Linked DNA regions of Homo sapiens. The protein of the gene in region 1 purifies or fractionates together with the protein of each later gene. This does not show direct contact. Each region holds a gene or a part of one and is shown on either strand. Other genes may lie near its edges. The genes, in order: LRRC56 and METAP1D.

Region 1 (9,986 bases):
CAGCAGAGCCTGTGTACAGAACCCGGACCAGACGGCAGCTCCCGGGAGAGGCACAGCAGAGCCTGTGTACAGAACCCGGACCAGCTCCCAGGAGAAGCACAGGAAGCTCCGTGCCCCACAGCAACTCACAACATTCGGAGCTGAAGACGTTGGCGGCTCTCACGTCATCGGAAGGGAAAGAACAAGGCTGAAGGAACATCCGACTTTATTCTGGGGGTTTGGGCAAAGTGGGTTTTGTGAAAACGCTGCTGGTTTTATGTAGCCTGTTCCCAGCAGCATAAGGCAGGGGAATTCCAGGCAGAATTCTAGAACATTCTCCAGCTGTGTGAATTGGGCTCCAAGGGCCACATCTAGTTATTTCCAGATGAGGATAAGGGTATTCATTAAGCAACCTCTCTTTGAATGTTTTCTTGATTTTCCTTATTTGTACTTCTGTTTATCAAACAAATATCAAAATGGGCCGGGCACGGTGTCTCACGCCTATAATCCCAGAACTTTGGGAGGCCGAGGTGGGCAGATCACCTGAGGTCAGGAGTTCGAGACCAGCCTGACCAACATGGAGAAATCCCATCTCTACTAAAAATACAAAATTAGCCGTGCATGGTGGCACATGCCTGTAACCCCAGCTGCTCAGGAGGCTGAGGCAGGAGAGTCGCTGCAGTGAGCCGGGAGGCAGATGCTGCAGTGAGCTGAGATCACACCACTACACTCCAGCCGGGGCAACAGAGCGAAACTCTGCCTCAAAAAAATAAAGTAGGCCAGGCACAGTGGTTCACGCCTGTAATCCCAGTACTTTGGGAGGCCAAGGTAGGCAGATCACGAGGTCAGGAGATTGAGACCATACTGACTAACATGGTGAAACCCCGTCTCTACTAAAAATACAAAAAATTAGCCGGGCGTGGTGGTGGGCGCCTGTAGTCCCAGCTACTCGGGAGGCTGAGGCAGGAAAATGGCGTGAACCCAGGAGGCGGAGCTTGCAGTGAGCCAAGATCGCACCACTAAACTCCAGCCTGGGCGACTGAGTGAGACTTCGTCTCAAAAAAAAAAAAATACATGAAGATCTGGAAATGGAAGAAAGTTGGAAAACACTTTGGGGTCAAAGACACAGTGGGCAGCCCACAGAACTGGAACAGAGAGGGGCCTGGACATGAAGTCAGGCCTGCAGCAGGCACCCAGACGACACCGCGAACGAGAAACTAGGATGGGTTTGGAAAATGGACTTCTTAGAAACATGTCTCCCAGCCAGGCGGGTTGGCTCACACCTGTAATCCCAACACTTTGGGAGGCCAAGGCAGGCGGATCACGAGGTCAGGAGTTCAAGATCCGCCTGGCTAACGTGGTGAAAACCCATCTCTACTAAAAATACAAAAAAAAAAAGAAATAGCCAGGCATGGTGTGCGCTTGTAATCCCAGCTACACAGGAGGCAGAGGCAGGAGAATTGCTTGAACCCAGGAGGCGGAGGTTGCAGTAAGCCAAGATTGCTCCATTGCACTCCAGCCTAGGCAACAAGAGCAAAACTCCATCTCAAAAAAAAAAAAATTAGCTGGGCTTGGGCTTGGGCTTGGCGGTGCATGCCTGTAATGCCAGCTGCACAGGAGGCTGAGGCATGAGAATCACTTGGACCTGGGAGGTGGAGGTTGCAGTGAGCTGAGATCGCGCCACTGCACTCCAGCCTGGGTGACAGAGCAAGACTCCGTCTCAAAAAACCGTAAAAAACAAAAACAAAGAACAAAAAAAGTGCCCCTAATACAAGAGTAAATGATATTCTAATGGAGATGGCTGTACTTTTTTTTTTAGCTTAACAAATAAGCCTCTATTATTTTGTGTTTTTTTTTGTTTTGAGACAGAGTCTCACTCCGTTGCCCAGGCTGGAGTGCAGTGGCGCAATCTCGGCTCACTGCAATCTCGCCTCCCGGGTTCACGCCATTCCCCTGCCTCAGCCTCCCGAGTAGCTGGGACTACAGGCGCCTGCCACCACGCCCGGCTAATTTTTTGTATTTTTAGTAGAGACGAGGTTTCACCACGTTGGCCAGGATGGTCTCGATCTCCTGACCTCATGATCTGCCCGCCTCGGCCTCCCAAAATGCTGGGATTACAGGCGTGAGCCACCACGCCCGGCCAGAAGCCTCTATTGTTAAGACCAACAAATTAGCTCTAAGAACAACAAAAAAATATAAAAAGCACATAAATACACAAAATATAAAAGAGCAGTGGAAGGTACTATAAAATTAAATATGATGCACTACCTGTAACAAAACAAAATAGTTCCAAAGGAAAAATGACTAGGTCATAAATTGTATAAAAAATATATTCAGGCCAGGTGCGGTGGCTCACACCTGTAATCCCAGCACTTTGGGAGGCCAAGGCGAGTGGAACATGAGGTCAGCAGTTCAAGACCAGCCTGGCCAAGATGGTGAAACCCCGTATCTACTAAAAATACAAAAATTAGCCGGGTGTGGTGGCGGGCACCTGTAATCACAGCTACTCGGGAGGCTGAGGCAGGAGAATTGCTTGAACCTGGGAGGCAGAGGTTGCAGTGAGCCAAGATCGTGCCACTGCACTCCAGCCTGAGTGACAGAGACTCCATCTCAAAAAAAAAATTAAAAATTAAAAAATTTCAAAGGAACTTGTCATAAATAAAAGACTGAAAGGAAAAACAAACTGAATTATTGGCACTGAAACATATCCTAATAAAGTTACTGGCATGAAGATAAAGGTAAAAAGTTGGAGCAGCCAAGAAAAGAGATTGACTTGTCTTTTTTTCTTTGAGACAGGGTCTCACTCTGTCGCCCAGGCTGGAGTGCAGTGGTGCGACCATGGCTTACAATAGCCTCGACCTCCTGGGCTCAGGTGCTCCTCCCACCTCAGCCTCCTGAAGTGCCAGGATTACAGGCATGAAGCACTGTGCTCAGCCTCAAGTTTTGTTTGTTTGTTTGTTTGTTTGGAGACGGAGGCTCGCTCTGTCGTCCAGGCTGGAGTGCAGTGGCGCAATCTCAGCTCACTGCAACCTCCACCTCCCCGGTTCAAGCGATTCTCCTGCCTCAGCCTCCCAAAGTGCTGGGACTACAGGCACCCGCCACCACGCCTGGCTAATTTTTTTGTATTTTTAGTAGAGATGGGGTTTCACCGTGTTAACCAGGACGGTCTAGATCTCCTGACCTCGTGATCTGCCTGCCTCGGCCTCCCAAAGTGCTGGGATGACAGGCGTGAACCACCGCGCCCGGCCTCAAGTGGTTTTTTAAGGACAGAAATAACGAAGTGCTCCTTAGACGTCGCCACAGTGGACACTGGAACGAAAGGCTTTGCAGCCTCCTGGGAAGAGGCGTGAACTGAGAGTCTGACACCCAGCCTAATGGCTGCATAAGCTCACAGCCAGCAAACATCTGTGAGTCAGAGATCAAGGGGTTTCCATTAGCTGCTCTTGAAGAAATCACTAGACACAAATCCCAGCCAATTCAGAGCGGAGTGGAAAAGCCATTGAAGGCAGCAGGCTGAGGACAGACACTGACTCCACAGCGCGAAAGGACGGACCACCGGGAATGCACCTGAGGGCCCACAGAAGGAAGCTGAAAACACAGTGGGCGGAATGAAGCCCAGGTGAGTCACAGCCTACGGGTGCCGTGAACTGGACAGAAAGAAGATTTCCGAAGAAATCACCCAGCCCTGGAGGAATCTGTGGCTCCTCAGGGAAAGCCTGTGAGCTCAGGTGGCCCTTTCACAAGGAGAGGTGCAGAGATGGCGTAGCAGCGCTGAAGGGACGGCCTCCCAGCCGAGAGGGGCAGGTGCAGGGTCCCTGGGGACAGCGCATGGTGAAGTCACTGTGGCTACAGTGGGAACAGGGTGGGCCCGGCAGGAAGCAACCTGTCCCTGCACACATCAAGCCGCCCTGACCCACCGCCACCTCCAGCAGCTGGTCCCCACAAAAGCTGCCAGCTCAGCACGGGGTCAGCCTCCAGCGAAGCCCCCCACATCGGTGTCCAGGGGCTCAGGCTCCCAGGCAGCACTCCAGACCCTTACTCCAAATTCGAGTGCCCCAAACGCTACTGAGGAGACAATTAGAAAGAGAAAGGTGATGCCTGCAGCCTGCCAGGGAGGGGACTGAGCCACCCACTATGAGGGCAGCGCCTTGGGCACAGCTGAGCCACCGGTCACGAGGGCAGCTCCCCAAGCCAGGCCCTCCAGGGCTTGGAGAAGGTGGGGGACACTGTACCCACACCAGAGCCAGAAGGCCAAGGCAGAGAGCCCCTTCCTCAGTCTAGAGGCCACCATAGGTGGTCACACCTGCCCCTACCCCTGAAGACAGCCAAAGGCAGGTGGTGGCTGAGCACAGGGCTGGGCACATGTTGACCACCAAACCCTGCCTTCTGCAGGGACTTGGGCACGTCTCTGGGCCACCTGCAGGTGCTGTGGCTGGCTCGCTGTGGCCTCGCTGACCTGGATGGCATCGCCTCTTTGCCAGCACTTAAGGTGAGTCTGGGCACCCTGGGCTGGGGAGGCCTGGGCTGGGCCGGGCCCTGGCTCAGAGCCCCGCGCTGCCCAGGAACTCTACGCCTCCTACAACAACATCTCGGACCTGAGCCCACTGTGCCTGCTGGAACAATTGGAGGTGCTGGACCTGGAGGGCAACAGCGTGGAGGACCTGGGGCAGGTGCGCTACTTGCAGCTGTGCCCACGCCTGGCCATGCTCACCCTGGAGGGCAACCTGGTGTGCCTACAGCCGGCCCCTGGCCCCACCAACAAGGTGCGTGTCCCGGGCACCCGGCCAGCATGTGCATGGCCAGGAGAGGCTCCCTGTGGCTCCAGCCCCGGGGCCCCTCCTCTGGCCAGGTACTTCTGTGCCCACCCGCACCCTATGGCCTGCTCACCATGAGTTCACCTCCTCTGTCACTGGAAGTCTGACGGCTCCCAGGACACCCTCCTGGACCAGCCCCGCTAGATCCCACAGGGTCACCTGCACACACGCCATGTCCCTTAACCCACATATGCACCTGTGAGGTCCACACATAAGCCACGTGGAAACACAAAGAACCACGTGTACACGGATGTGTGCACACACACACCTGTGTACGCCCTGTCCAGAGCCACCTCCAGCCCCACAGGCCCCACAGACCACCCTATGCAGTATCTCGGGGCTCTGCGTGCCCTGCTCAGAGCTGGCACACCTGTGCGTGCAGGCCCTGGCGTAGCTCACAGACCCTACACAGGGCACATCTGCCCTGAGCTCACAGTGCTAGCCTCATTAGCTGCTGCTTGGTGCTGCCACATGCTGAGGTCAGCGTCTACCAGTGCCCAGTAGCTACTGCTCCGTGGGCCAGAGCCCTGAGCTGAGGGCAGTTCCATGGGCCAGAGGGCATCCCTGGACCCGGCCTTGGGTCTGGAGAGTGGGGTCCTACATCCTGAGCAGGTGAGAGCCCAGTCCCTCAGTCCCTGGGGTGTGAGAGTGACCCAAGCCCACCCCTGCAGGGTAGGCAGCATCCCCACCTCTGGGCCCCTGCCCTGCCCCACGGTGGGTCTGGGAAAGGGAGCCAGGGAAAGAGCTGGCCGGAAGGAAACACTGGACCCAGACCTGCCCTCCCTCCCCCTCCCCCTCCCCCTGCAGGTGCCCAGGGGCTACAACTACAGGGCAGAGGTGAGGAAGCTCATTCCCCAGCTGCAGGTCCTGGACGAAGTGCCGGCCGCACACACAGGCCCACCGGCCCCCCCGCGGCTGAGCCAGGACTGGCTTGCGGTGAAGGAGGCCATCAAGAAGGGCAACGGCCTTCCCCCGCTGGGTACGGCAGCTGCGCCCGGAGGACCCACTGCTGAGCCCCAGCTCCCCCCAGGAAGAGGCCCCCACCCCAGGCTTCTCAGAAACGGATAGCCACATCTCATGCGCTTCTCCAGCCTTGACCCCGGTCCCCAGAGCTGTGCACACCCGGCCCCAGGCCAGGACACTGTCTCTGAGCAGCCCACAGAGGGAGAGGAAGGTCTGAAGATGAGGGCCTCTCTAGAAGGCTGCAGCGTGAGAGGCCAGCCTCAGGCCATGCAGCATGGGGATTGGGGCCCCTGGTCTGTGGACAGAGTCTGGGGGGCGCTCTCAGGCTGGGCCTTGGTGACCTCTGCTTCTGAACCTCGGGCAGACTGTCCCCGTGGAGCCCCCATCCGGAGACTTGACCCCGAGCTGTCCCTGCCTGAGACGCAGTCCCGGGCCTCCAGGCCCTGGCCCTTCTCCCTGCTGGTCCGTGGGGGCCCCCTGCCTGAAGGCCTGCTTTCTGAGGACCTGGCCCCAGAAGATAACACCAGCAGCCTCACCCATGGTAACTGACTTGCCTCAAAGCTGACCCTGCAGCCCCTCGGCCCCGAACCAGGCCCAGCCATGCTGTCTCTTGCAGGTGCTGGCCAAGTCCTCTGTGGGAACCCCACCAAGGGCCTGCGGGAGCGTAGGCACCAGTGCCAGGTACAGCCCACAGGGACCAGCCCCCCACGAGAACCAGTGTCCAGGGTTGCGGCCCTGACAGTGCCCTGCCCTGCCGCCATTCCAGGGCCAGAATCCCTAAAGCAGTCCCTTTTCCTCCCCAGGCCAGGGAGCCCCCCGAGCAGCTGCCCCAACACAGGCCAGGAGATCCGGCCGCCAGCACTTCCACCCCAGAGCCTGACCCTGCAGACAGCTCTGACTTCCTGGCCTTGGCTGGGCTCAGGGCCTGGAGGGAACATGGCGTGCGGTGGGTGTCCCTCCAGCTCTTCCACTGGGTGTGTCCTGTCCCGTGGGGAAATCAGGGCTGGGGCTACCTTGGCTGAGTCATCCCCAGTCCCAAGGCTCGTGGACCATCCCTGCATGTCCTGTCCCGTGGGGGGATCAGGGCTGGGGCTACCTTGGCTGAGTCATCGCTGGTCCCAAGGCTCGTGGACCATCCCTGTGTGTCCTGTCCCGTGGGGGGATCAGGGCTGGGGCTACCTTGGCTGAGTCATCCCCAGTCCCAAGGCTCATGGACCATCCCTATGTGTCCTGTCCCGTGGGGGGATCAGGGCTGGAGCTTCTCCTCCTCTCCCCACCCTAGCCCCCTCCCCTATAGGCACCCGGAGTCCCAACAGGAAGGGGCTGTAGCCCCCTGGGGCCCACGGAGGGTCCCTGAAGAGCAAGTGCACCAGGCAGAGCCCAAGACTCCCTCCAGCCCCCCAAGCCTGGCCTCAGGTACTGAGCCTGCCCGCCTGCCCCCCAGTGCCTGGGAGTGACCAACACCCCACTTCTATAGGGGGGCCCTTACCCCAGATCAGATGTGTCAACCTGGCCCTGCTTCCTCAGCCATGCTCTGAGAGGGACTGTAACAGGGAGGCCCCCTTCTGGGGGTGGGGGGCTCACGACCAAGGGAGGCCCAACCCAAGTCCTCTCCCAAGCCACGGTCCAATCCCTGTGACCTTGTGTGCCACCCGGGCTGGACGAAAGAGAGGCGTTCCACAAAAGGGGGTATGAACAGAGTCCAGAGGAGTCGGGACAGAAAGAAGGAGCCACCCCAGGGCACCAGCAGGCAGAACATGGCCACTGGGCAGCTTTCAGGGACACAGGCATGAGTCCGGGGGCTGGGAGGAAAGGCGGCCAGCAGCCCCACTGGGAGACCAAGGCAGGAGGGTGCTGCCGCTTCACCCTGAAGATGGCACGCGCACTTGGGGACATAGAATTAAGCCATGCAGTGCCCTTTACGAAGGACACTGACTTCAGTGTGATCACAGCTGCAAAGCAGAGAGGACCCTCCCTCAGCGGGCAGGCAGGCCGGGCAGGGGGCAGTGTAAGCAGGGGCGACCCCACGGTGGGCAGCTGACCCTCCTCTGTGCAGGAGCCTGGTTAAGGGGGCTGGGATGGGCAGGGAACAGGGCAGGCCAAGCCTCTGCTCTTCCATATGGTGGTGGGTGTCTGTGGAGGGGGCAGACAGAGGGGTCAACAGCTGGTTACCTAGTGGCCGTGACCTGCAGGGGTGGAGGGAGGGCAGGCAGGGCGGCCAGGAGGAGGGGAGCTGCAGTGGCCTCAGGGCAGGGTCAGGACAAAGGCATGCCAGGGCTCCAGACACCGGTGGAGGCGGGTGCTGGGGGACCCAAGGCTTGGGAACCGGCCCGGGGCGGTCAGCCAGTGAACAGGCTCTCAGGGTCAGGACACAGATGACCGAGGGTCAGAGCCAGGCCTTGTGGTCTCCTTCTCAGGGACAGGACACAGAGGACCCAGGGCCAGAACCAGGCTTCGTGGCCTCCTTGCCTGCCCCAGAGGTGGGCCCGCCCATGCGAGTCAGGGGTCACAGGGCTGGGAACACAGAAAGTGGGGTGCAGGGGTGCTGCTGCCTGTGGACCCCCAAGGACCACTGCCTCGGGGCTGCAGGGCCACGGGTGGGCTGTGGCCTCCCCACCGGGTGACTCCCTTCCCTGACAGCCTTTCTGACGTCCCATCACTCTGCTTGCTTTCTAGAGCCCTCCGGGACCTCGAGCCAGCACCTGGTCCCTTCACCTCCCAAGCACCCAAGGCCACGAGATTCTGGCAGCAGCTCCCCGCGGTGGTCGACAGACCTGCAGTCCAGGGGGCGTCGGCTCCGAGTCCTGGGCAGCTGGGGGCCTGGCCTGGGTGATGGGGTGGCTGCAGTGCCTGTCCTGAGAGCCCTGGAGGTGGCCTCACGCCTGAGCCCTCGAGCCCAGGGATGTCCTGGCCCAAAGCCAGCACCAGATGCAGCAGCTAGACCTCCCAGGGCAGCTGAACTCTCTCACCCCAGCCCCGTCCCCACTTAATATAGCCCCCACTGCCAGGCTTCCCTGTGCTGGGGCCACGACTTGCCCACATATGTGGTCACAGAGCACAGAATACCTGGGCGGGTGTGTTGGGGGGTGGAAGGAGTGCCTGGCCCTGGGGAGGACCCTCTTGGTGGAGGGGAGTGGGGGACTGGGACCAGCCAGGGAGGCAGCAGAGGCTGGAACCCAGTTTAGGCCCCCAACTGGGTTTGGCCTGGGGAGGGAGGGTCCGGCTCCCCAGCCCTTCCTTAGGGCCAGGCTTTCCCGCGGGCACGGGGGTGGGGGGTGGTCACCCGAGCAGGCCTGTGAGAGGCCTCTCCTGCTAGAATTGGGCATGGCCGAGGGGCAGGGGCTGGAGCTGCGAGTCCACCACTCCCTTGCCGGCCCCAGGGTAAGAGCCACCTCCTAGGCCGCAGTGGCCCAAGGTCCCAGCTGCTCGCCTGAGGCCGCCGGGGGTGCGGTCCAGGCCTCCCGTCTCCGGGGGATCTGTAGGGTTCCCGCACTGCGATAGGGCGGCCCGTTCCCTCCTCTTGGCGCAGGACGCCCCGGAACCCAAACCAACATTTCCAGCTCTCAGGTGTACAGAAATGCGGTTTACTTTGTAGGCCACGTTGGTTCAATAAATGATGCAGCGGACACAGCCCGCCCAGCCCCGGCGCCCGCCCGCGCCCTCCCTCGCGGTCCCGGCCCCACTCCTCCGCCCCTAGGCGCCGCGGCAGGTGTCCGCGGTGACCGGCAGGCAGCTGAGGAAGCGGAAGCCGAATCTGCTCTCCGCCGTGTTCTGCACCGACAGGGCCACCAGGGGGCAGCTACGGTCCACGCTCTTCCGGCACACCTGGGGGGCGCGGGGGCTGAGAGGCGCGCGGGGCGGGGCGGGGACGGGAGGGGAGGGGAGGGGAGGAGAGGGGAGGGGCGGGGAGGAGAGCGGAGGGGAGGGGACGAGGAGACAGAGGGGAGGGAGGGGCGGGAGAGGAGAGGAGGAGAACGAGGAGGGAGAGGAGGGGGCGCACCCGCAAGCGCGCACTCACCCGAACTCGGTGTTCTTTCTGGAGCCGACAGTCCTCCAGGCCCAGCCCGGCCTCTGCGGGAGGCGACGGCAGGGTGGGGTCACCCGGGATGGCGGGCAGGTGCTGCGGCGCGGGGATCTCGGGGTTCTCGGGCCGCGCAGGCCCCTCCCGCGCGTGGAAGAGCTTCCCCGAGCTCACTGGGGGCAGCAGGCCCCGCGTCCTGGTGGGGCGAG
Region 2 (9,805 bases), on another chromosome or scaffold:
ACTGCTGTTTTTACATCTCCTATAACATCTTTTAAGCCAAAGCGTTGGACAAACTTGAAACGAATGCTAGCCAGACTGGGCCTGATATCAACAACTTCCTTGGGGCAATGTTTTGGTCTTACCCTACAGTTAAGTTAGCCCTGTCTGGTCCCATTCTACTCCCCTTCCCTTGACAGACTGCTCAGGAGGTTGCAGCATGCTATTTGCTGAGCCCATTTGGATTATGCCTATAAATGGCTCTAGATCCCTGAAATCCTCAGAATTTCAGTATGGAAGAGGCTCAGGTAGGGCAATCCCATTAGGAAGGGGTGGGGCTTAAAGTATCATTTGCATAGGAATTATATGACTGGGAAAATGTCATTAGACTAATAAAAAATGAGAGTGGCAGGAGGATCACATGCAACTAACATCCTCCTTCTCTTGTCCTGGCTCCCTCTTGGCACTGCTAAAGATCAAGGAACAGGGCACAAACAGCAAAGATAAATCCACTTGATTTTCCACAACTGTCTCACATATGGCATTACTTTTCCTCGCAAAACATGGAATATTTACACATTTTCTCTAACAGTACCTTTAGATTACTCAGTAACATATTCATGATTGTCTCAAATGATTGGTATAGGAAACATGACATTCTGCCAGCAAGTTAGTTGAGAGTGCCCTAGAAACTGTCTGCCTGAACCTATAATCATTCAAACATAGACGCTAACTTTAGAGGGGCCCAATCAGCTACTAAGACAGATCTTTGTTGTACATGCGGCTTATGTTTATGCAGAACTCCTAGTTCCTGAAAAGAATGTTCATTTGACTTAAAATATGTAAACAAGTAGCATACCAACATATTAAAATTAGAGAAACTAGAGGCCAAGATCGGAGATTCTTCTCCAACCACAGAGTTGCTAAGAAATGATCGTGAAATCAAATCAAAAGGCTAACTTTACGGATTCAGATGGCAAAACAAAGAGGCAGGGTCAGGAAGGGAGAATGAGGCCCCTGGGTCTAGATGACAACTGCGCTGAAGCTGTGTGGTCCCGGGGTACCAGTTTCCCCCAGCAGCCACATTATATCAGTTAATCTTACAACGTATTCACATAAAACAGCTTTTTATTAGAGATATGTAAGCACCTTGGCCCCTATTTCATGGTTTGTGCTCTTTCTTTTCTTTCCTTCCTTCCTTCTTTCTTTCCTTCCTTCTTTCCTTCCCTTCCTTCCTTCTTTCCTTCTTTCCTTCTTTCCTTCCTTCCTTCCTTGCTTCCTTCCTTCCTTCCTCCCTCCCTCCCTCTCTCTCTCTTTCTTTCTTTCTTTTGACAGAGTCTCCCTCTGTCGCTCAGGATGGACTGCAGTGACACCATCCTGGCCCACTGCAACCTCCGCCTCCAGGGTTTAAGCTATTCTCCTTGCCTCAGTCTCCCGAATAGCTAGGATTACAAGTGCCCGCCCCATACCCGGCTAATTTTTGCATCTTTTAGTAGAGATGGGGTTTCGCCATGTTGGCCAGGCTGATCTTGAACTCCTGACCTCAGGTGATCTGCCCGCCTCGGCCTCTCAAAATGCTGGGATTACAGGCATAAGCCACCACACCCAGCCTGTGTTTTCAAATATCTTATAGTAATCCTAATATATATATATATAAATCTAAACTTGTGAGACAAATTACAAGATGATGTTATTTACTATAAGACAAACATTTTTAAAAAATTATTTACTTCATGTCACATAATCCCTTAGAGCATTTAAAAATGCAAATATTCAATTAAAAATTCAATACATACATTACAGAACCTGCATAATTTAACTTTTATTACAAACTACAAATTTAGACACACTCATGGTATAAGTCTATAATATTAAGTTCAAGAAGGAGGAAGGAAAAATGGGTTTTTCAAAAATATGCATATTGGAATTTATTTGATTTATATCTTTTATAAATAAAAAGATTTTAAAAGATGTGAATAAGACATGATCTTTTGAAAATCAAGGTAAAGACCTATAAAATAATAATCACAATCAAAATATTTTAACATTCAAGAATGAATTTTTGGACATAAACTGAAGGTATTAAGTTATCCTTTATTTCTTGAACCCTGGTTTTCAAAAGTTATTCAACTTTTTTTTTTTGAGACAGAGTCTTGCTCTGTTGCCCAGGCTACAGTGCAGTGGCACAATCACAGCTCACTGCAGCCTCAAACTCCGGGGCTCAAGCGCTCCTCCTGCCTCAGCCTCCCAAGTAGCTGGGACTATATGCATGTGCCACCACATCTAGCTAGTTTGTAAATTTTTTGTAGACACGGGGTCTCACTATGTTGCCCAGCTGGGTCTCCAACTCCTGGGCTCAAGCAATCCTCCTGCCTTGGCTTCCCAAAGTGTTGGAATTACAGGTGTGAGCCACTGCACCCGGCCGAATTATTCAATTTTTTATTCAAGAATCCTAAGTACAAAATCTGACTAATGGTAAGAATTCAAATCAGTGAAGTGCCATAATATAATTAACCTTCATTTCACAGATAGGAGCACGGACAGAAATGGAGTAGAGAAGTGACTCAGTAGCGGTTACTCATCTAAATAAAAGCACTCTAATGCTCAAGATCACAGAATGTTAAAATTGCAAGGGATCCTAGATATCAGTGATCTAGCCCTTTATCTTGTTGGTCACTATGTATATATCCCTTTTTTTTTTTTTTTTGAGAGAATCTTCCTCTGTGGCACAGGCTGGAGTGCAGTGGCAGGATCTCGGCTCACTGTAAACTCTGCCTCCCAGGTTCAAGTGATTCTCCCGCCTTAGCCTCTGAGTAGCTGGGATTGCAGGCATGCACCACCATGCCTGGCTAATTTTTGTATTTTTAGTAGAGACAGGTTTCACCATGTTGCCCAAGCTGGTCTCGAATTCCTGACCTCAAGTGATCTGCCTGCGTTCGCCTCCCAAAGTGCTGGGATTACAGGCATGAGCCACCACACCCAGCTTATATCCCATAAGTTGATGGTTTTGGCGGACATGTGCTGGCAGCTTTTAACCCTTCTGCGGTGAGAAGGATGTGTATGAGAGAAGCCAGATCCAGGGTCAGTGGATGAGCTATCACCTGTGCAAGTTCATATTTGCTTCATTTCTAGCTCATCCCAGATATCTACATTCCATGCCGAACTTATTGAGGATTTCCTCACTGGATTCCACTACTGCTGGTGCCACCTGGGTCCTCATAGTGTTTCCTTTTCCTTTTAGTTGTAGGGGAATAAAGCATTCATTTATTTTCCAAGGGTTGGCTGAGTTAAGTCACATGAACATGTGTTCTATTTCAGATGGGTTTGAAACTAGGCTTGATGCCTTAAGGAATAGGGATGTCTAGATTTCTTTTTTCTGTACACTGCTTAAGACTCTGTGGCCAGCTAACTCTCAGGCTCCTTTGCTGCACTCAGATTGCTGGCCTCAGTTACACAGAGGACAGATTTGCCACATTCAAAAATGCTCTCCCTGGAATTGAAATGAGTTTGCAAAAGGTAGGAGTACATTTTATTCTCATTCTTGTGCATCTTATTTACCCTGATGGAAAGCATTACTTCTCTTTATCTTTCAAGGTGACCCAAAAGCATCCAAAACCAGGTTTTCCAGAATTATAGCATGTGTCCTCTAATGAAATGCCAACATTCACTCTCTTTAAAAGTAAAAATATCAAGATTATATAGTCATTAAAAAGAATAAGTCTGAACTAAGTGTTCTAAGATTTGATGCCTATGATGACTGGAATGGAAAAAGCAAGTCATATGATTCTATTTAAAATACTTACATTTGCCTGTGTGTAAAAGGCAAAGATCTCAATTGAGCACACGGTGGTTAACTGGGGAGTGGGACTATGGTATGTACAGAGGGCGAGGAAGGGGCTTGCACTTGTTCCTTATTTCTGAATTGTTCTGAATTGTCTAGATTATTCACTGAGTGTGTAGTGCTTAAAAATTAATTAGAAGACATCACACACATTCACTGAGAATCCTAATCAATCTTCACTGCATTTAAAGTCTGGAAACGGTTACATTCTCAGTTTGACTGGTTTCATGCAGTGTTCAATTGCTTCACCTGACATTCCTCGGGTATCGGGTTCTGTGCCGGGCACGGAGGCTACTAAGATGAATAACACCTGGTCCATGACAGGATGGCATCTACCCCAGAACACAGGTAAGAGAGACAGTGAATTTGGTAAAAATGGGCACCGTCATCAGTAGGCATACATCAGCTCCCTCATCTGATTCACAATTGGCCTTCTGTAGGCTTCTTCTCTTGGCAATGCAATTGGCAGGCGTCATCCTTTTATACTTAAACTCCAAATTTAGGATTAAGACTCCAGTTAATACTGCCAAGCAGAAGGCGTCCTTGGAGAAAGAGAAGTCTCCTGAACATACCCACTGGGGTACCTAGAATAGATTTTGCAGCGACACACAGATCCTGTGTTGTCTGGAGTCTCTGCTGAGTAATGTAGATTCTGGGACAGCAAAAGGGGAGCTGGTGACTTTGAACCAAATTTTACCTTTCAACTGAATCCAGGGGAATAATTTGCAACAGAGTGGCAGACGATACAAAGTGCTATGTTGAACACTAGATTGTGCTTTATTTTTTCCGCCCAACTTCACGTTTCCATGCACCAAAATGTTGATGCTATAAATATTGGATGCCACGCTTACCTGACAGGCTTCTTCCATCCCACCTGGGCGCGGGGGCTCAGAGCGAGCGCGCGAGCCGCGGCTGGAGCCCGCCTCTCGCGGCTGGAGAGGACTCAGCCGGCCGCGGGTTCTGCTGCTTGCCCGGGTGCCCTAGCCGCTTCCCAGCCAGGGCTCCCGCAGTCAGCCCCGCGCGCGCACGCGCGCTCCCCTCGGGCGGCCTCGACGCCTCAGGGCTTCGGCAGGGCTGCGACTGGCCGGCTCCAGCGGGCGGGGCGGCGAGCGAGTGCTCGCGGCCACGTGACCGACGCCAACATGGCGGCGCCCAGTGGCGTCCACCTGCTCGTCCGCAGAGGTAAGCGCGTGGAGGAGAGCCCCGTGAGGGTTCGCACGGTTGCTCACTAGGTACGCACCCGGGTCCAAAGGGATGCGCACCCGCGCTCAGACTTCTCGGCGCACACGACTGTACTTTCAGTGTTTACGAACACACGCAGGCACACACGATGACACATTCACACACCACAGGATCACACATACAAATTTGTTCACTGATCACCCGCCTAGAACACGTCACCACGTGGCATCTTTTCGCAATTACTCCTTGAGATTTGCGGGCCATTGTCTGAAGTTTTTTTCCCCAACTTCGGTTGTATCATTAGTGTAACCAACATTTATTCTGTATGCCGAGCAAGGAAACCTATGGTAATTCTGAAATGCATCTGGACACCCGGTTCCCTTCCCTAGAGCTTTTATGCAGGCATGCTTTTTGGGGACTTGCAAAATGTGATGGTTTTCTTCCAGTGACTTAAAGTTAAGAAGATAAGAAAGGATGTCTGGGTAGTTCTAAGTAGGTTTTATCCTGCGTGAGTGTTGAGATTTTAGTAAATATACAAATGCCTTTGCAGCAGAATTGGGGAAATCTTTGTTGGATTTGAACTAGGTGCTGAATCTTTGTTGGAAAGAACTAGAAAGTTTTTCCAAGGACGGGGGAAGAGGAAAACTATCATATTTTGAGGAGCTACTTAAGCGTCAGGCATGTAGGAACAGTTTTGTGAGGTAAATATTATTTTCATAGTAACAGCTACTGTTTATTAAGTGCCTTTTAAGTACACGATACTGTGTTAAGCGCCTTACATATGCTTGCTTCCTTTTAAAACTCAATGAATGAGACCCCGTCTCTACAAAAAATTTTAAAAATTAGTCGGGCGTGGTGACACATGCCTGTAGTCTCAGCTATTCTGGGGGTTGAGGTGGTAGGATCGCTTGAGCCTGGGAGGTCAAGAGGCTGCAGTGAGCCGTGATCGTACCACTGAACTCCAGACTTGGCAATAGAGCCAGACCCTGTCTCAAAAACAAAAACAAAAACCCAGTGAGTTAGGAATTATTTTCTCTTTGCAGAAGGGAAAAGTAAGGCTAGAGAGGTTAAGTAACATTACTAAGGTCGCATAAATGGTAAGAGGCAGATTGCTCATTTGAACATGACTCTAATTTTTTTTTTTAAGACTCATTTCTCGGTACTGCATGACGTGGTCACTCCATAGAAGTCAGTGTGTAAAGTTCAGCAGAGACAGTGCAGGATGAGTGTGTACAAAAAGTGAAGAGAGCCTGGGCACGGTGGCTCACACCTGTAAACCCAGCACTTTGGGAGGCCGAGGCAGGTGGCTCACTTGAGGTCAGAAGTTCAAGACCAGCCTGGCCAACATGGTGAAACCCCGTCTCTACTAATATACACAATTAGCTGGGCGTGGTGGCGCATGCCTGTAATCCCAGCTACTCGGGAGACTGAGGTAGGAAAATTGCTTTAACCCAGGAGGTGGAGGTTGCAGTGAGCTGAGATCATACCACTACACTCTAGCCTGGGCGACAGAGCGAGACTCCGTCTCAGAAAAAAAAAATAAATAAAAATAATAAAAAATAAGAAGTGAAGAGGAAGATATTTTTAGAGAGGAAGAAGGTTGGTAATCGAATAGACTTCAGTATTTCAGTGTTAGTGGAGATGAGAAAGGGGCCACAGGAAGATTTGAGGGGAGAGATGTGTATGGGGAAGGTGATGTAGCGAGCATTTTGGACTGGTTGCATGAAGGAATGGACATCAGCATGAGAGTGTAGCCTTGTGAAAAGACAGCCAATTTACATCTCTCAAGATCTGGGTGCCAGGCCTGGCAAGGTGGCTAATGCCTGTAATATTACCCAGCACTTTGGGAGGCCAAGGCGGGCAGATCACTTGAGGCCAGGAGTTCAAGACCAGCCTGGCCAACATGGTGAAACCTGTCTCTACTAAAAATACAAAAATTAGCCAGGTGTGGTGGCACATGCTGGTAATCCCAGCTACTTGGGAGGTGGAGGTGGGAGGGATCGCCTGAACCCAGGAGGCGGAGGTTGTAGTGAGCTGAAAAAAAAAAAAAAAAGATCTGGGTTCCAGTCCAAACTTTCTTTACTAATTACTTTTCTGTTTCCTCTTTTCACAAGAAATCATGGCTTTTAGACTTCATTTTTGTATGCTTCAGGTAATGGTGAGAAGGATCTGAGGAGATAGTCAATGTAGAGGAGGAGCCAAAAAAAAAACAACCTGAAAACATACATAGGTGTATGTATGTATATATATATACACCTATGCATGTATAAACGTATTTTTATATGTGTGTATATATGTATTAGGTTGGTACAAAAGTAATTGCAGTTTTAGAATCAATGACAAAAACTGTGATTACTTTGCACCAACTGTATATATAACATCTCTTTGCAGATAACAGAAATAGCATTAATCTTTTCTTTCTTTTTGATCACTTATTATTTTGACAAATGGTGGTTTAGACAGTCTTGAGAAAATATATTATATGGAAGTCAGGCCAAGTTATTGGTTCCTATAATCCATCCCACTGTATCCCAAAGTGTTGCAACAACCAAGAAGTGGATCCTCTGATTAGAGGAGAGAAGAAAAATGTGTCATCAGGAAGCTATTTTAATGATGGAGAAAGGGCCCCTTTTTGGACTACCCATAGCTAGTTTTAAATTGCAGAGAGGTTTTCCTGCTCCCCACCCCCAAGAATTGAAAATGAAGGGTAAATTCACGAAGACTCCTCTCTCCACCCTCTTCCTCCCTTTCACCCATCTAGATTTATGTAAAGCAATCCATTACAAGTCTTCATGTACCAGGATTTATTATCAGCATTTATGAGCATCATTTCTTCTTGAAATAGAGGAAGACTTTTTTTTAACCTTTTAAAAAAGGCATGAGGTTTCTCTTGTGACGCCTCAACTCATTGTGGCTTTGGTCACAGTATACCCTATATACAGTAGTTACCTAGCTCCTCTCACCATTTCTGCTCCTTACTAGATTATTAATTCTTGTTGAACAGAAGCTTTGTCTTATGTATCTTTCTGTCTTTATAAGCACAGTACCTGGCTCAAAGTTAAGCTCATTAAAAGTATACAGAATTGAGAGGCTGTTAAGATTTGTTCTCTTCCATCATGGTCTAAGGAGGGTTGGGTAGAAACTATGAGTAGTGACATTGGAAAGAGGAAAAGACAGATCAGCCTCTTGGAACCAAGAGAGAAGGTAACAAGGGCCTTTAAGGGACTAAAATACTCCCAAGTATTAGTGCTGGCAGGAAATCCCTTCCTCAGAGTACAGAATCCCTACCCTGGGGCCCCAGGAACTCTCTCCTATCTCAGTCTCACTCCCAGCCCTCGCTTCACTGGAATCCCAGGTCTAGCTCGGGCCACGAAGCAAGATCCCAGTGAATATGAAGAGGAACAAGGAAATCTCAGCTTGAATTGTAATAATCCCCATGTGTCAAGGGCAGGACCAGGTAGAGGTAATTGGATCATGGGGATAGTTTCCCCCATTCTGTTCTTGTGATAATGAGTGAGTCTCAGGAGATCTGATAGTTTTATAAGCGTCTGGCATTTTCTCCTGCTTGCACTCATTCTCTCTCCTGCCACCCTGTGAAGAGGTGCCTTCTGCCATGATTATACATTTCCTGAGGCCTCCCGAGCCATGCAGAACTGTGAGTCAATTAAACCCCTTTTCTTTATAAATTACCCAGTCTCAGGAATTTCTTCATAGCAGTGTGAGAACAGACTAATACAGCAAGTAAGAGGGCATATTTTCTTTCTTTTTTTTTTGAGACAGAGTCTCGCCCTGTAGCACAGGGTGAAGTGCAGTGGTGCGATCTTGGCTCACTGCAACCTCTGCCTCCCGGGTTGAAGTGATTCTCCTGCCTCAGCCTCCCGAGTAGCTGGGACCACAGGTGCCCACCACCACGCCTGGCTAATTTTTGTATTTTTAAGTAGACACGGGGTTTTGCCATGTTGGCCAGGCTGGTCTCTCTTGAACTTCTGACTTCAAGTGATCCGCCTGCCTCAGCCTCCCACAGTGCTGGGATTACAGGCATGAACCACCGCACCTGGCCATTTACTTATTTTTAACAAATATAAAAAAAACTTAGAAGTACTTTTGTTCACTTGTGACTGTAAGGCCCTAGACTCCTCCACTGAGAATTTTGTTACCTTAGTGGTTTTTCAAAAATGTAATAGCCAGGCAGGGGAGGGGCTGTTATACATCATGAGTTAAGTACTTTAAACTTTTGCCAACTGCCCTGAGATCCTTGCTATCTTGTATAGCTTCTGCAGGAAAATGTCTGCTCAGTTTTGCCAAACCAACTTTTCTTTTTTTTTTTAAATCGAGACGGAGTCTTGCTCTGTTGCCCAGGCTGGAATGCAGTGGTGTGATCTTGGCCCACTGCAACCTCTGCCACCCAAATTCAAGTGATTCTCCTGCCTCAGCCTCTTGAGTAGTGGGAATTACAAGCATCCGCCGCCATGCCCGGCTAATTTTTGTATTTTTAGTAGAGACGGGGGTTTCGCCATGTTGGCCAGGCTGGTCTCGAACTCCTGACCTCTGGTGACGCACCTGCCTCGGCCTCCCAAAGTGCTGGGATTATAAGCATGAGCCACCACGCCCAGCCGCCAAACCAACTTATAATTAAACTTTTGGGATGCAATTCATGGGTGATTTGGAAAATGCTAACATTCCTAAGTTTAGCTTCCTATTACTTAGACTACATTCCTGTTGACATCCAGAGAATGGAAATGGAGTTTTGCCGTATGACATCTTTTAACAAATACATTCCAATTCTATTATAATATGGCATGTTAC

What was found.
Region 2: the proteins of LRRC56 (region 1) and METAP1D purify together in Homo sapiens (affinity purification with mass spectrometry; 2 studies listed by BioGRID and IntAct, with this or other methods). This does not show direct contact.

What each region holds. Positions count from the first base shown.
Region 1 is NC_000011.10:545,531-555,516, forward strand, and holds the end of LRRC56 (leucine-rich repeat-containing protein 56), read left to right. Parts: intron 1-4,371; coding exon 4,372-4,468; intron 4,469-4,541; coding exon 4,542-4,742; intron 4,743-5,600; coding exon 5,601-5,772; intron 5,773-6,120; coding exon 6,121-6,297; intron 6,298-6,372; coding exon 6,373-6,437; intron 6,438-6,559; coding exon 6,560-6,702; intron 6,703-7,038; coding exon 7,039-7,172; intron 7,173-8,432; coding exon 8,433-8,746; 3' UTR 8,747-9,382; downstream 9,383-9,986. Other genes in the region: LMNTD2 (lamin tail domain-containing protein 2), read right to left, coding at 9,450-9,581, 9,775-9,973. UniProt on the Homo sapiens protein: Required for the assembly of dynein arms.
Region 2 is NC_000002.12:171,995,011-172,004,815, forward strand, and holds the start of METAP1D (methionine aminopeptidase 1D, mitochondrial isoform 1 precursor), read left to right. Parts: upstream 1-4,942; 5' UTR 4,943-4,959; coding exon 4,960-4,999; exon of another isoform or gene 5,000-5,049; intron 5,050-9,805. UniProt on the Homo sapiens protein: Removes the N-terminal methionine from nascent proteins. The N-terminal methionine is often cleaved when the second residue in the primary sequence is small and uncharged (Met-Ala-, Cys, Gly, Pro, Ser, Thr, or Val).